Linked DNA regions of Homo sapiens: regions 1 and 3 are each linked to region 2. The links come from fine-mapping of genetic effects on gene expression. A gene starts in region 2. Each other region holds a variant in brackets. All regions are shown on one strand. Distances are between the middles of the regions. Region 1 overlaps MAFF (MAF bZIP transcription factor F). Region 2 holds the start of CDC42EP1 (CDC42 effector protein 1). Region 3 overlaps MFNG (MFNG O-fucosylpeptide 3-beta-N-acetylglucosaminyltransferase).

Evidence for each region. PIP is the estimated chance that this variant, and not a neighbour inherited with it, causes the effect.
Region 1: its variant is the best candidate, but not a certain one, in a credible set for the expression of CDC42EP1 in cerebellum (GTEx, PIP 0.76).
Region 3: its variant is the best candidate, but not a certain one, in a credible set for the expression of CDC42EP1 in whole blood (INTERVAL, PIP 0.52).

Annotation. Positions count from the first base shown.
Region 1 is chr22:38,206,127-38,208,879 of GRCh38, reverse strand. All of the region lies in intron 1 of MAFF (MAF bZIP transcription factor F), which reads right to left. Among named protein-coding and RNA genes, the nearest start is that of MAFF, 5.5 kb to the right of the region's middle. RefSeq lists a cis regulatory region at 1,298-1,315 and an enhancer at 1,236-1,380. The variant C/T (reference allele first, on the strand shown) is at 1,256.
Region 2 is chr22:37,558,985-37,561,737 of GRCh38, reverse strand. CDC42EP1 (CDC42 effector protein 1) reads right to left here and starts at 1,258. Exons shown (of 3, transcript NM_152243.3): 1 at 1,150-1,258. RefSeq lists enhancers at 1-15, 16-622.
Region 3 is chr22:37,476,072-37,478,824 of GRCh38, reverse strand. MFNG (MFNG O-fucosylpeptide 3-beta-N-acetylglucosaminyltransferase) reads left to right here. Exons shown (of 8, transcript NM_002405.4): 5 at 1,844-1,929. Among named protein-coding and RNA genes, the nearest start is that of MFNG, 8.9 kb to the left of the region's middle. The variant C/T (reference allele first, on the strand shown) is at 1,233.

The DNA.
Region 1 (2,753 bases), 650 kb before region 2:
GCCTCTGAGCCACCTCCCACCCCATGATATTTCTCTCCCCTCACTCCCCTCTACTTTGTTTGGCAGACTCCTACTCATCCTTCGGCCCTGGGTGCAGACATCTCCTCCTCCAGGAAGCCCTCCCTGATCCCTAGGACTTGTTAGGGACCCCCACCCCTGTGTGTAATGGGTTGTATTTCCTTGCTGTCTCTCCACCAGACAGGGAGAGGCTGAGTCAGCTCTGGGTGCTTGAGGCCACCCATCTCAAGACCTGGCAGGGAGCAGGCACTGGGGAAGGGTGGATGGTCAGAGTCTCTGACGCCATCACCCAGCTTGTCACCAAGCCGGGTTCCAAGCCGAAACGTAGTTCAGTACCTCCTGGCCCTGTCTCTAATTCTTCCTCCTCTCCAGCTGCTTCCTTGGGCCTGTTGGCAGAGACAGTACAGATGCTAGGCGAATGGGAAGAGAGCAGAGGGGATCCCATCCACGTGACTTTGGGCCCAAAGGTGGGGTGTGGGAAACAGGGAAAGGAGCACTGGATTGGGAGTCAAGCTTGGGTTTAAGTCGCATCTCTGTTTTCTCAGGCTGTGTGACCTGGGGTGAGCCACTCCATCTCTCTGGGTCTCCACTTTCCCATCTAAAGGATCGGAACAATACCTGCCTCGCAGGGTTTTGGTGGAATCAAGTGGTATACACTGTAGAGGTCAGTGAGCAGCTGGGAGGTTAGAATTGCTGTCTGTCCAGGAGGGGTCAGGCCTGTAGCCAGCACTGGGGTCTCGCTCTGATTTAGCATCTCCCAGCTGGCTGGGGTCACACAGGGAACTGCAGGAAAGGCCCTTAGAGGCCATCAGGTCCTGCCTCCTCCCTTTACCCAAGGGGAGGTAGAGACCCAGAGAGGGGCAGCACTTGCCTGAAGTCACACAATAGGTGTGAATGAATAGCTGCAAAGGCCCAGGACTGAAACCTGGTCCCTTCACACCGTCACCTCCCTGGTTCGCCCAACCCTGAGGTAATGCCCAGAGAGGACAATAGAGTAGTCCAGGCTCATACAGCCAGCATGGGGTAGAATTCAGGCCTGAGAGTTCAAGACCAACCTGGGCAAGATGGCTAGACTCCATCTCCAAAAAATAAAAAGATTAGCCGGGTGCAGTGGTGCACACCTATAGCCCCAGCTACTCAGGAGGCTGAGGCAGGAGGAACCATTGAGCCCAGGAATTCAAGGCGGCAGTGAGCTGTGATCCCGCCACTGCACTCCCTGGGTGACAAAGCAAGACCC[C/T]GCCTCTTAAAAAAAAAATTAGCCGGGTGTGGTGGTGGGCGCCTGTAGTCCCAGCTACTGGGGAGGCTGAGGCAGGAGAATGGCGTGAACCCGGAGATGGAGCTTGCAGTGAGCTGAGATCGCGCCACTGCACTCCAGCCTGGGTGACAGAGCGAGACTCTGTCTCAAAAAAAAAAAAAAAAAAAAAAAAAAAAAAAAAAAGATGGCCAAGCAAGGTGGCTCATGCCTGTAATCCCAGCACTTTGGGAGGCCGAGGTGGGCGGATCATGAGGTCAGGAGACTGAGACCATCATGGCTAACACAGTGAAACCCTGTCTGTACTAAAAATACAAAAAATTAGCTGGGCCTGGTGGCACACACCTGTAGTCCCAACTACTCAGGAGGCTGAGGCAGGAGAATCGCTTAGAACCTGGGAGGCAGAGGTTGCAGTGAGCCGAGATTACGCGACTGCACTCCAGCCTGGGTGACAGAGCAAGACTCCATCTCAAAAATAATAATAATAATAATAATAGAATTCAGGCCTGAGGCCACATGGAGCCACACACCTCCTCCCTGTGTGGCCCTGGCAGGGCGACCTCCCTGGGCCCTGTTTCCCTAGCCCTGTGAAGATGAAGCTGGACTTGCCAGTTTCCAAGGCCACCCCAGCTCTGATTCTCCAGGATTTGTGTTGGGCCCGCTAGGGATACGATTTGCAAGTTACAGTTAAGTATCCAGGCCCCCTTACCAGCCGTTTGGGGAGCTGGCACGTGCAGTGATGCTTGGCCACCTGAGCTACACAGAAAGACCCAATGGGAGAAGGGAAGCCTCTCCCCACGCAAGTTAATCAACTGCCCTTTGGGTGTTGCGGCTGATACAGAACCTCAGAGGCACAGTCTGGCCTCATGCACAAGTCATTTTTCCTGAGTCCTGGATTCCTTGCTAAGTGGGAATAATCACAATAATCTTGGTGTGTAAAATATAAAGGCTTAGGCAAGGCCAGGCGTGGTGGCTCACGCCTGTAATCCCAGCACTTTGGGAGGCCAAGGTGGGCAGATCATCTGAGGCCAGGAGTTCAAGAACGGCCTGGCCAACATGGTGAAATCCTGTCTCTACTAAAGAAAAAAAAAAATGCAAAAATTAGCCAGGTGTGGTGGCGCACACCTATAGTCCCAGCTACTTGGGAGGCTGAGGCAGAAGAATTGCATGAACCCGGGAGGTGGAGGTTTCAGTGAGCTGAGAACAAGCCACTGGACTCCAGCCTGGGCAACAGAGCGAGACTCCATCAAAAAAAAAAAAAAAAAAAAAGGAGGCATAGGCAAGAAAGATCACCTCATCTCACCATCATCCCACTATCCACAAGCAACAGAGACATCACTAACCACACACAGCACCAATTCCCAGTGAGGCAGGCCACAGCCCCTGAGTCTTTCTCAGCACAGAACTGTTTTCTCCTGAGCTTGGACACAGCCTAGAATCCTCAACACTGCCTCCAGACCAGGCCTGAGAGATGGAACCATCA
Region 2 (2,753 bases):
CACTTCCTGCGGGCATCCAGCTGGGTGACGCCCCCCCCCACCGCTGGACAGCGGGTCCCTGTCATGGTTACGGCAGCTCCCCCAAACCTGCTCTGGTCCCTGGAATAAGGGGTTAAACCGGTCGGCTGACTTCTCCTGCTCCTCAAAGTCCAGACGCTTCAAGGTGGAGAGACGGGGAAACTGAGGCCAGAACGGGGTAGCTAGTTGTTCGCAGTCGCGCTAGGGGACCCGGTCCTCCGTATTCCAAGGGGGGCACCGTGGGCCATTAGGGAGCGACGGGGAAAGTGGAAAGGAGACGCGCTTCGTGCCCACCGCCCCGAGTTAGAGCCGAACCAGCCCGGGACCGAGCGAGACGGAGCGGCTGCGGGCCGCGTCTCGGGTCCCCGCGCCACGTTTAGTGCCGCTGCGGCCTCCCGGCCAGTCCCCCCTACTCTCTAAGCCTCAGTTTCCCGGTCTAGGAAAAGGGCTTCGAATGTTGCGGGTCTGGCACTGCTGGGGCAAAGGCAGAACAATCTGGAGGGCGGCCGGGATTGGAAGTCCGGGAAAGACTTCGGCCATCCAACATTCCCTGGGGGGACGGGGCTCAGGACGCGGAGGGTCGCTCCGCGGGGGAAGGGGACGACCGGCTGTCTTGGCCGGAGGGGAACCGGACGGGATGACCTCATCCGCGGCTCCAGCCTGGAATGCGGCGGTCGGGGAGGGGGGCAGGGTGCCTGTCCATCTCCCCGGGCCCCCCACCCCCCACTTCCCGCTCTCCGCGTGGGCCTCGGCGGAGGGGAGACATTCCGCCGCGTCGCCCGCTGCCCGCCCCGGCCCTTCCTTCCCCCGCGCAGGAAGGCGCGGAGACAGCCCCCGCTCTGCCCCTCGGCTCGCCCCCTCCTCGCGCATTTTGGCCGCTCAGCCGTGTCCGATCCTCTGCCCCCTCCACCAGCCTGGAACGGGACACGAAGCCCGAAAGCTCGGAGTTTCCTCGCGCGGCTCCGCGGCCGCGCCCGGCCTTCCTGTGGGCACCCGGGGGCGCCTCTCCCGGGCGGGTCCCGTCCCCGTTCCGGCCCCGGGAGCCTAGTAGGGTGCAGAGTCCCCGCGGGCGCCGGGACCCGCCGGCCTCCACGGCCTCCGCCCCGAGGACCCGCGCGCCCGGGCTGTTACCTGGCTCCGCGAGCCCCGGGGGCGCGGGACGAGGGCGGACTCGTCGTCTGCAGCGGCGGCGGCCGCGCGTCCCGGCTGGCAGCCCGGGAGAGTCGCTGGGCCGGTCTGCGCCGCCCTGGCCGCGGGCTCCGCGGGCTGGATCCGGGGGCGGGGGCGGGGTGTGGGCGCTCCCGCCTCCCGCCCGTCTCCTCCCGCCCGCGGGCGGGGCCCGGCCCCCTCCCCGGCCCCCTCCCCGGCACCGTCCTCGCGGCCGCCGAGAGCTGGCAGGGACGCGGCTGGGGGGCCAGGCCAGGCCTCTGCTCGCCACCCCGGACAAGGCCAGCCGGGGAACGTGCGGGCTGCCCCGGGGAGGCGACTCCGGTCCCCGGCCGCCAACCCCTCTTCCACCGGTTCCCCTCGTGGCCTTGCTTGGGGCGTCCAGGCCTGATGAACTCTCCTCCCTCCTGGGCCCTCCAGCCGCGCCCTGCGGGAGTTCGGGGAACCGGGAAGCTCGATCTGAGGCCTTGAATGCCTGGGCCTTTAAACCTTGATGTTTACAGGCATGACATGCCCACTCCTTTGCTCCCCATTCTCATTCCCTTCCATCCGGTACAGGCCCCGCGGTGCCCAGGAGGAAGACAGCCATACTGGGGCGACTGGTAGAGTGGGGTAGAGTGGCCGTCAAGACCGGGACCCTGGAGCCGGACAGCCTGGGCTCCTGTCCTGCCTCAGTCACTACTTACCTTTCTCTGCCTCAGTTTCCTGATCTGAAAGTGGGATAGATAATAGCAGCATCAGATGTTGTGTGAAGTGTTTCCTGCTCCAAGAGCACCTAGGAGGCTTGCTCGGCAGGTAAATGAAGTCGCATCTCAGAGACTTTACAGACCCTCCCCCCACCCCGCCCACCTCCATGGAGGGCAGGGAATCAGCCATACCCGGGACCCTGTGCCATCCTCAAGGAGGGGAGATAGATCTCTGGCCCCTGCCTCCCGTTGTTGTGCCCTCCTTTGACTACTCCCATCTGACTATAGAGTCCTCGGGCTGTCAGGGCACAGAGAGGTCCCTAATACTTCCTGCAGGGCCTGGGGGCTCAGGAAATCTTCCTAGAGGAGATGATACCTGAGTTAAGTCTCTCTCTCTCTCTTTTTTTTTTTTTTTTTTTTTTTTTTTTTTTTTTTTTTTTTTTTGAGACGGAGTCTCTCTCTGTTGCTCAGGCTGGAGTGCCATGGCATGATCTCAGCTCACTGCAGCTTCCACCTCCCGGGTTCAAGCGATTCTCCCTCCTAAGCCTCCGGACTAGCTGGGATTACAGGCACCCACCCACGCCCGGCTAATTTTTGTATTTTTTAGTAGAGAGGGGGCTTCACCATGTTGGCCAGGCTGGTCTTGAACTCCTTACCTCAGGTGATCCGCCTGCCTTGGCCTCCTCAAGTGCTAGGATTATGGGTGTGAGCCACTGCATGGTTGTGAGTTAAGTCTTAAAGGACGTGTAGGCAGAGGGAAGGGCAGTGGAAATGCACAGTGCACAGCTGGCAAGGGACAGCACAGCAAAGGCTGGGAGTGGAGGACCCTGCAGCGGAGGCAAACCCGGCTGAAGGAGACTGGCTGAGCGCTGTTGTGGCCGG
Region 3 (2,753 bases), 83 kb after region 2:
CACCTGTAGTCCCAGCTACTCGGGAGGCTGAGAGAGGAGAATCGCTTGAACCCAGGAGGCGGAGGTTGCAGTGAGCTGAGATTGTGCCACTGCACTCCAGCCTGGGCGGCAGAGCGAGACTCCGTCCCTCCGTCAAAAAAAAAAAAAAAAATTGCTGAATACTGTGGGGCTGGGTGATTGCTGCCACCTGAGCCCCAGAACCCTTCCCCACCTTCCCCTCCTGGGGCACCCTCTCCCTCCAGACACCTCCACTAGCCTGTGACTGAAGAGTCGACACCTGGCAAAACAGGGGGCTCTGTACCCGCCTCAGTTCCTGACCTGGATGGACACTGATTTGGGTTGCCAGATTCATTAAACAAATAAATGAAAAACCACTACATCCAGTTAAACTTGACTTTCTCATAAATAATGAGGAAATTTTTAGTATAAGTATGTCCCAAATATTGCATGGTTCTCTCCCTGTCCCCAGGACCCCCTGGGCATCAGGTGTTAGAGTGGTCCTGGCCCTAGGGCTCCCTTGGCTCCAGGAAGAAGGCAGATCGGGAGGTCCCTCTCTAGAGGCAGTGCCTGGTGCAGGAGCTGGGCACACAGCGGGGCTCAACCTCCCTTCCCAGGTCCCCATCTGCTTCATTAGGAAAACCAAGAGCAGAAAACACAGAGCCTTAATTATCAGTAGCTAATCAGCCTCTGAGCCTTAATTAAATTCTTCTGGGCCCTAGGGCTCTGTGTATGAGTGATTCCAGGGGAGCCAGGGGGTCCCCCAGGCTCTCACACCACTTCACTGCTGGCGACTCACCTCTGCCTAAGCAGTTTGCCTCTGGGGTGGAGAACTGCACGCTGGAGCCTGACTCCCTGGGTTTACACGGCAGCCCTGCCACCTCCTGGCTTTGTGACCTTGACTGAGGTCACCTCACCTCTCTGTGCCTCAGTTTCCTAATCTGTGAAATGGGTGATAACAGCCCCTACTCAAAGAGTGGTCGTGAACACAGAAGAAAGAATGAAATGAGGTCATCTCTCCAAGTCCTTGGAATGAGACCTGGCACGAAGTCAACACTAGAAAGTGTTAGTGATCTGAGGCCGGGCGCGGTGGCTCATATCTGTAATCCCAGCACTTTGGGAGGCCGAGGCAGGTGAATCACCTGAGGTCAGGAGTTTGAGACCAGCCTGGCCAACAAATAGTTAAACCCTGTCTCTACTAAAAAATACAAAAATTAGTTGGGCGTGGTGGCGCA[C/T]GTCTGTAGTTCCAGCTATTTGGGAAGCTGAGGCTGGAGAATCGCTTGAACCTGGGAGGCGGAGGTTGCAGTGAGCAGAGATGGTGCCACTGCACTTGAGCCTGGGCAACAGAGCAAGACTCTGTCTCTTAAAAAAAAAAAAGTGTTAGTGATTTGTATTGGACACAGCCTGACCTTTGTTTCCCAGCCACATCTTTCCTATGCACACTCAGGCCCCGTCAACCTAGGCCCACCTCTGTGGCCCAGGAGAGCAGGTGCCATGTTCGGCAGCCCCTCCCAAGCCACATGGAGTGAGGTAGAGACCTTTCTCAGGGGAAAGGGGCATGGTGGCTGGGTGGGTAAAACAACACCTGTCCCCTTTAACTGGAATTCAGCTGGACTTGAGTCTGATCAGTGACCTCACCACTCATAATTAACTATGTGACTTCGGGCCTCTGTTTTCTTATCTATAGAATGGGTGCAATAATGCCAGGTTGTAGCAAGACTCTAGTGAGATTCAAAATAAAGGGCTTTTGAGCCATGCTGGTTGGGGGTGAAGGGTGGCCTGGCTGTCCCTTTTCCCCACAACTGCCACCAGGCTCACTCTGCCCCTTGGCCTTCCTCTCTCTCAGAGGCTGGTACAGTTCTGGTTTGCCACTGGGGGTGCTGGCTTCTGCATCAATCGCAAACTGGCTTTGAAGATGGCTCCGTGGGCCAGGTAAGCAGAGACCCAGGGGTGGGCAGGAAGGCGGGGAGGGGGTGGCAGCTGGGGTACAGGAGGGGCCTTTGCAGCAGGAAGGGCTTTGAGAGTGAGCTCAGGAGAAGCTGCTCCTCATTTGCGTGTGTCACAGAGCGGCAGTTGGTGGTGAACAAGCCACCTGCCACCTGCCCTCAGGGGCTGCACGGCTGAGCGCATGACGTGCCACTCACAGGCAAGTCATGTCATCTCCAAGAGCCCCAGTCCCCCCGTCGGCACATGGACCTGATAATGCAGTGGCCAATGGTGTAGTAAGGGTTAAATGAGAAAATGTCTGGGCTGGCCCTGGTAGGTGCTATTTACCGCCCTTTTCTGACTGGTCAATGCCGTAGGGGAGGTGAAGGCCAAATCTAAGGGTCTTCAGAGGAGGGAGAAGGGCCTTCTGGGTGAGGGAAGAAGGGAAGGCTTCCAGGAAGAGGTGGTATTTGAGCTGGGACAGTCCACTATACACTGGGCCATCTAAGGGAGATGATATTACTCCTAATAGCACAGTGGGTGTACATCCTGTGATATTATTCATAATATCATCTAAGGGAGATGATATTACTCCTAATATTATGAGGGGATCTCAGGGGTAGTGGAGGCCGCAGTGTGGGTGGGGGTGGGACACAGGTGTTCTAGAAGTGGCGAGGCCTGGCTTCTGGAGGTCTTTCCGGGCTATTATTATTATTAACAGCACCATCAGCAGCCACTCCCTTGTATTGAGGACTGACTCTGAGCCAGCTCTGTGCTCCATCAAGAGGATCACAACACCTGGGGGAGAAGGTGGCATTAGTCTTGTTTCT